Linked DNA regions of Homo sapiens. The protein of the gene in region 1 interacts with the protein of each later gene in a pairwise test. Each region holds a gene or a part of one and is shown in the gene's direction. Other genes may lie near its edges. The genes, in order: ZFHX3 and SPECC1L.

The links.
Region 2: the proteins of ZFHX3 (region 1) and SPECC1L interact in binary tests that used the Homo sapiens proteins (3 or more experiments, as listed by UniProt).

The regions. Positions count from the first base shown.
Region 1 is NC_000016.10:72,782,304-72,786,220, reverse strand, and holds the end of ZFHX3 (zinc finger homeobox protein 3), read left to right. Parts: 3' UTR 1-3,336; downstream 3,337-3,917.
Region 2 is NC_000022.11:24,269,006-24,272,922, forward strand, and holds the start of SPECC1L (cytospin-A), read left to right. Parts: upstream 1-1,825; 5' UTR 1,826-1,978; intron 1,979-3,917. UniProt on the Homo sapiens protein: Involved in cytokinesis and spindle organization. May play a role in actin cytoskeleton organization and microtubule stabilization and hence required for proper cell adhesion and migration.

The DNA.
Region 1 (3,917 bases):
TTTGTATGGTCCAGCTGACAGCTCCTCATTTGATGTTGTCTTGTTCATTCCTAGCAGATGATAGATTGCAATCCGTTGATTCGCCTAAGCTTTTCTCCCCTTGTCCCTTAATTCCACTTTCTCTTTCTTGTCCCTTAATTCCACTTTCTCTTTCCTTCTCCCACCTCCCGTCCTATAATCTCCCACTTAAGGTAGCTGCCTTCATTTCTTAGAGGGAGCTGCAGAATTATTTTATAAAACTAAAGAAAGAATTTCAAGGGATTCTAGGGGTCATTAGGATCCTCACAGATTATTTTTGGTTGGGGAGTTGAAACTTTTTAAAGGCATATAATTCTAGTTACCTGTGTCTGTTAGCTTTGTGCATTTATTTTTTATTTATCCTTCTTTTGGCTTTTTTTTCTTTGTACCCCTTCTTTTCCTCCTTGTTTGGTAGGAGCTTCAAATATTCTTTTTTTTTCTATACTAAAGGATTTGTTTCCATTTGTGTAATTGGCTGTGTACTTTTCTTTTCTAAAAAAAGTTTTTGGTTAGGGATTTGGTTTTTGGTTTTGTGTTTGTTTTTTCTTTCCTCTCTCAGAAAAAAAAATTTCATGCTTTAAATAAAATCCAAAGACACACCCTTTCACTGCTGATGCAGAAAAAAGGGAAAGGGTTCTTGTTACTTGAGAATTTGTTTCTGATTTAAACAAACAAGACTTAGTTTAATAAAAGAAAGAGAAAAACAAAAGATTCCCAGGTTGTTATGTGCTTCTTCTGCAAGCAGAGAGGCAAATGTTAATGACAATTCCATATACCAAAAGACACATTTTTTACTTCAAAGTTTTGTCCTTGTGTTAGGCAGTCTGAGCAGCGAGTGATCCAGAGCGCAGCCAACAAAGCAGCAGATAGCAGTGTACAGAAAGCAAAAAAGGAACTGTATGTGAGGCACTTGTTTCTGTTAATATCCATATTCCTGTTAACACACACCCTTTCTCATGTAAAAAGAAAAATAAATAAATGGTCTGAACTTTGAAAACTTTGTGCTGCTAAAACATAGATTTTGGAGACAAATAAATAGATGCTTTGCTGTTTCACTTTCATAGCTAAACATCAACAGAAACCATCTCCCCTTGCCCCCAAAGTGTGAAATCCTTCTTCCCTTCGTTTTCTTCCTTATGTTTCAAAAGGGAACTTTGAAGACTGTGAATACAGGTTCCATTGGTCACCTTTCGGGCTTCTTTCCCCAGTGCTGAAGCCACTCATCGACTTTGCAAAAGACTGGAGCATTCCAAGATCTGAAAATGGATTTTTTTTCTTTTTTTCTTTTTTAGCCGGGACTATTTTATTTTTATGAATTTGTTTTTAGTTTAATGAAATAGTAGATCCTGAAATGTTGTACATATTTCTAACTAGGCTGATGCACAGTGCAAATTCCTTTTTTAATTGTTTTTTTTAAGTAGAAATACTAAAGAAAGAATACCATCTAACTATTCATACCAGTATCCAGTTGTAGCATAAGGTGTCAAAAGCAAGTACGCAAAACATTTACTGTTTTAACAAGCTATTTCCTTTTAACAAGAAATCTTGTATTTCTTCCTGTGTTTGAGATGAACATTTTTAAATTTTAAAGTTGTACAGTTTTTTGTTTTCCATTATTTTATCTTGTTTGTAACTCTATGAAATATATATATATATATTTTTTGCCATTTAACTGTTGTATGTTACTCTGTGTCTGTACCATATAGAAAAAAAATTGTTTTTGTTTTTGGTTCTCTATGTGATATCAGTTAACAATGTAACACTAGCTTTACCTGTCAAATTCTGCTAGGTCTTCTCTGAAAACGTTGTTTTTAAAAATGATATTGCTTGGTAATAGTGCAATTTCTATCCTTTTCCCTCCCCCCTCAACTTTTAAGTTCTTTTCTTTATAATTTTGCTGCCCCCTCCCTGATGGTTTGGGTTTTTGTTTTTGTTTTTGTTTTTTTTTTTCATGGAGCTACTATGCCATCCTCCCTCTGTGAGGCAGAGTGACTGTCAGTGTTTTGTTATGCCATGCCTTGAGCTGTGGGTGTTTGGCGACAATAAGGTGGTTGAATAGATTGGCTGAGCACACTTCCACCCACCTAGTGTTCTCAGAGGGGTTATGTGATTGTTTCAACCTGGAGTGGGTTGCACCCTTAATGCTTTCCTCTGCAACTAAACCGCCCACATATATGTTCATTGAAAAAAGTAAGAATAATTCTCAGCACTAACCCAGAAGTAGCAAAGCAGTCAGTGATGGTGAACATTAGAGGTCAAACATGAGTTAGATGTTTGTGGGCTGACAGCCATCGTGGCTATGACCAGTACTATTTACAAAGCATGAATTCACTACAATGCTCAACTGTTTGTTTAGCTTTATCTCACTTGGGGAATTTATTCCTGTCTGCTGCATTGTAGGTAGCTGGGTAGGATATATTTCCACTTGCTTTTTAAATTAGTTCTTCACCTCCATTGACACTCGTTTTTTGGTTTTCTCCCTATAGTGTGGGTTGGTGCTAGACACCAGTCTGACCCACAGAATGGGAGTTATTTCATCCATCTTTCCTCCATCCTTCCAAAAACCACATATCTACACAAGGAAAAATTTAATACATCTAGGAATTTTTTTTTTAATTACAAGCTATTTAAAGAGATGAATGTGGCCAAAGTTTTACACAATTGAAAATAAAGTAAAACAGACGGCATGTGTTTAAACCTGAGTTTATCAGGCATGGCAGGAAGTTGCAGGAGAGAGAGGCAGTGACCCAAGCCAGTGCACTTGATGTTCATGGACATATATTTTTTTTAAATAATAAATTAAAACATTTTAAATAGAAGCATAAATTGAGTTGTTTGTTGGCGCTGAGATACTGCCCACTGTGAAACAAAGCTTTGACTAGTTTTTTGTTTGTTTACTTTCTTCAGGGGGGAGGGGGGCAAGTTTGGGTAGGAAAGAAAGCATAAATGAACGTGACCCTGAGGTGAAGAGGTATATGAACAGCCTTTGCAATGTACAAAAAGAAAAAAAAACAAAAAACAACAAAAAAAATAGAGCAAGTGAAACCAAAAATGATGTTCTTGGTGTTTTTCTATAATGTAGTCTTGTTAGCTTTTTTGTTACTGTAACAATGCTGATCTCGAACTGTACCAAAATACATGGAGACTAACAAACAGAACCACATGGAACTTTCAAACTGAAAAAAAAATTTGTCACAAAAACTTTGTTGTCATAGTTAAGTTGATTGTAGATGGTAATTGAATATACTCCTTTGAAAATATTTCATCAAGTATGTTTCCTGCTCATTGTGATACATTAAAAAAAAAATATGAGCAAAAGCTCCTGTCTCTGTTACCACATTTGTGCACATGCATGTGTGTGTGCAGGAGAGAGAGGCTGATGGCTGGCAAAGTATAAATGTGAATACCTTGAGGTTGTGTGTGCAGGGAGTACTTATCCCAAGGTACAAAAGGATGTACACGAGCCCTTTAGTGTTTCTAAAGACGCTTGTATTTCCCATCTCCTGGGGCTCATGAATGTCAGAAGTTTGGGCCATGATGCCGTCTGCGTTTCTTCATTGGGAGGGGTGAGTCTGATATCTTGGACGATATTTGGCCCTAGAGTGCCCTAATAGCAACTAGATTTTTAATTCAAATATTTATATGAAAGTTTTTGATGCTTGACACAATTGCAGGCAAAAAAGTTTTACTGATTGATAGCCATGAGAAAGGTAGGTTCAACTTTTTTGAAATGGGAATTGGATCTAGTGTTTATGACAGAAAGATATGAACGGTAAGTTGAACTAATGGATAACTGACTACATTTACCTGTCCTAGCAAAAGACTTTTCTAAACCTCTGTTAGAGCAGAATTTGAGAGGCCCAGTCTGCACAACAGCAGTATCAGTAATGTCTGCATAC
Region 2 (3,917 bases), on another chromosome or scaffold:
TTTAGTATAGGCTTAAAACCAAACCAGACATAAATAGTACAAGGAGGCAAAAGTATGGACTAACTTCTTATGGACATATATGCAAAAACGCTAAATAAAATATTAGCAAATAATCCAGCAATGGATTAAACATGTATCACGACCAAGTTGGGGTTTTCCTAGGAAACTAAGATTATGTAATAAAAGAAAAAACTATTAAAGTAGTACAAACTATCAAAGGAAAAAACCTGTATGATCATTGCAACAGGTTCATTTGCGACATAATACAATTTTTTTCTTTTTTTTTTTTTAAGTCTTTTTGGCTGTAAGTTTATTCAATGCAAAATAATCCTCTCCAATTCTACTGAGGTGGCTGACGGTGTCCACGACCAAATTTGCCTCTAAACTGGAATTCGGTTGCTGACCCAGCCCCAGCCTCGGCTTTCTTGTCGGCACCAGGGGGCACAGCACTCCTTCTGTAGGTATCTCTGTCGGCTTCTCCTCTTGTGAGTCTTGCAGGTCGCTCACCCTCCAGACCTTTAGACCGAGGCCTGCCAGTCCCTGGACGGCTGCGGCGTAGGGTGGCAGGCACAATCTCCAGGGGCAGATGAAGGTAATCACGGAGATACTGGATATCCTCATTGGTAAGGTACCAGTAGACATGTCTCCAGGCAAACTGTTCCTTCACGTAGTAGCCTCGGGACTACATGACAGGAAGGTTGGGCACACACATTCTTTTTTTTTTGAGAGGAGTCTCACTCTGTCGCCCAGGCTGGAGTGCAGGGGCGCGATCTCGGCTCACTGCAACCTCCGCCCCCTGGGTTCAAGCAATTCTCCTGCCTTGGCCTCCCGACTAGCTGGGATTACAGGTGTCTGCCACCGCGCCTGGCTAATATTTTTGTATTTTTAGTAGACACGGGTTTCACCATCTTGGCCAGGCTGGTCTTGAACTCCTGACCTCGTGATCCGCCCGCCTCGGCCTCCCAAAGTGCTGGGATTACAGGCCTAAGCCACCGCGCCCGGCCGGGCACATTCTTGTCTGCCAACTCCAGGTGCTTAGGCATGTGGACATCCTTCTTGACCACCGTGACTTCCTCTTTAAAAAGGAGTTCATAAATGGCAATCCGGTTTTTCTTAGGCATCAGCATTCTGGGGAGGAGCAGCCGCTAAGGTGGCAGGGTGGCCCGGATGGGGGCCGATGGAACTCGAACTCCCCCAGAATTTCTTTAATATTTTATATATATATATATATATATATACATATATATATGTATATATATACACATATATATACATATATATATACGTATATATATATGTATATATATACATATATATATACGTATATATATATACGTATATATATATGTATATACATATATATATACATATATGTTGCTCGCTTATTCTTTTTGTCTGTTCCCTTATGTACCGGGAGTGCCAGGAGGACAGGGCTTTGTGTTTTCCTCACTGCTGTCTGGCTCATGCATAGCACAGTCCTTGGCACACGGTAAACACGCTGAGGAGAACTTTTGGGACTAGCGGACTCTGAGCATCATTCCGCTGGGCCCAGTGGGGCCTCTGAAGGGACCCGCCTTGCCCGGCTCCAGCCCAAGACCTGAGGCATGCGCACCGGCTGGCCGGCTACTTTCTTGACCGGCCAAGTGGCAGAGCGGCTGCGCGACCCAGTGCCGAGACGGACGCGAGCCGGAGATGGGGGAAGGGGAGGGGGTGGTGGTGGGGGACGGCGGCGCCTGCGCAGTGAAGGAATGTAGGCGGGGCCTCCACGACGCCTGCGCAGACGGCCGCAGCCCTGCTGGGCGCGAAGGGGCTGGCCAAGGGCGGGGCCCGCGAGGGAGGCCGGGCGGCCCGGCAAGCGGCGCTGCGGGGTAGGCTGCTTTCCTGAGGCCGGACTCAACGGGTCTCGGCTGAGCCACCGGGTGAGCTCACCGCCCAGCCCAAACCAGGAGATTGCGAGGGAGCGATGCGGTGCAGCGCGGTAAGAGCAGCAGCCGGGTTCCCGCAGTGTTCGCTGGCGGGTTGGTTTATCGCCTCAGCGCCGCCCGCGCTGCCGCGCCCGGGCGTCCCCGCAGACCCCGGCAGGCCCAGCGCCTGCGCCGTCTCTGCTCCTGGGCCCCTCCAGTGTGTCCCGCGCCTGCGCCTTTCCCTTCCCGCGCCGTCCTCGTTCTGGGCTTCGGGGCTTCTGGAACAACCCGCAGGCTTCGCCGCCGAGACCCACTGGCCTTCGTCCGTTGGTGTTGGGGTTCAGCTGGTTCTGGGACCCCGCTTGCGGCTTGACTGTGTGCAGACAGGCCGGGTGCGACCCTCGTGCTTGCCTTTCCGCCGCTCCGGGAGAGGCTGGGGCTGCCGCCCCATCGCCCGGGTCCCTTGCCTGGGGCGGGGACAGCGTTGTTCAGTGGCCCCGAGGGCGCAGAGCGGAGGAGCAGGGGCCACAGGCGGCGGACCCCGGGCCTGCTGCCGGTGCTGCTTCTGCTGTGGCCGGCGCCCGAGGCGGACGGAACGTCCTTTTTTCTTGAGACGTGGTTAATTGCATCAGGTTGGATGTGAATAATCCGGTACCTGTCTGAGGAAATTTTGCGTTTCCAGGAATTTGGTAATTGTATTACCTTAAGTAGTTAAGTCTAAGACATCATAGTCGCGGCACGTTGGGCAAGCTGCCCTGGAGATGACGAAAAGAAATCAGTTTCCAGTAGTTTTAGCCCATTTACAGAACACGCAAAAATTCTGTGATCATTCAAATGCGGGGAACCTTGATTTGTTGATATCCTTGATCATTTGTCCAAGTACCAGAAGGGCGAGGAAAAGATTCCCGTGAACAGCCCAGGTGATTTCAGGGAACAGTGTTTTCTTTTGTCAAAAGAGCCTCTTAAGCCATGATAATATTTCCCAAGCTTATAACAGATACAAGCCTTTAAAAAATGGCATTTGCTGTCACCCAGTAGGACACATCTTGAGATGAAATCAGAGCTGTAGGCTTTGTAGACAACAGCAGTCATTTCTGGTGGCTTCAGGGAGTGGAGGGGGACTGCAATTTTGCCAATGTAGGTGATACCAAAGGGACTATAGTAATTTTTTCTTCGTAATTAAAAACCAGGCCAGGCGCGGTGCCTCATGCCTGTAATCCCAGCACTTTGGGAGGCCGGGGCGGGCGGATCACCTGAAGTCAGGAGTTCAAGACCAGCCTGACCAACATGGTGAAATCCTGTCTCTACTAAAAATACAAAAAGCGCGCGCCTGTAATCCCAGCTACTCAGGAGGGTGAGGCAGGAGAATCGCTTGAACCCGGGAGGCGGAGGTTGCAGTGAGCCGAGTTCGCGCCACTGTACCCCAGCCTGGGCTACAGAGCGAGGCTCCGTCTCAAAAAAACAAAAACCAGATATAACAAGGCCGAGCTCCCTGGCTCACGCCTGTAATCACAGTAGTTTGGGAGGCCGAGGCGGGTGGATCACCTGAGGTTAGGAGTTCGATACCAGCCTGGCCAACATGGTGAAACCCCGTCTCTACAAAAAATATAAAAATTAGTCGGGCGTGGTGGCACACGCTTGTGATCCCAGCGGCTCGGGAGGCCGAGACAGGAGAATTGCTTAGGAGGCAGAGGGTGCAGTGAACCGAGGTCTCGCCACTGCACTCCAGCCTGGGCGACAGAGTGAGACTCTGTCTCAAAAAAAAAAAAAAACAGCTATTACAATATACATGTATGTTGTAAAATAACCAAACCAACATAGAAGGGTATATAGTGAAAGGAGAAGTATTGTTGTGGGTAAAATTGTTTCAATAAATGGCTAATCCAGTATTTTTTTCCTCCAAAAAAACACCTTTTCCCCTTTGATTTAGTGTATACCACACAGAGTCGCTTAGCCGATTCAGTGACTTTTTTGATAGCTGGAGAATGCTTCCTAATGGTTGCAGGTGTGTAG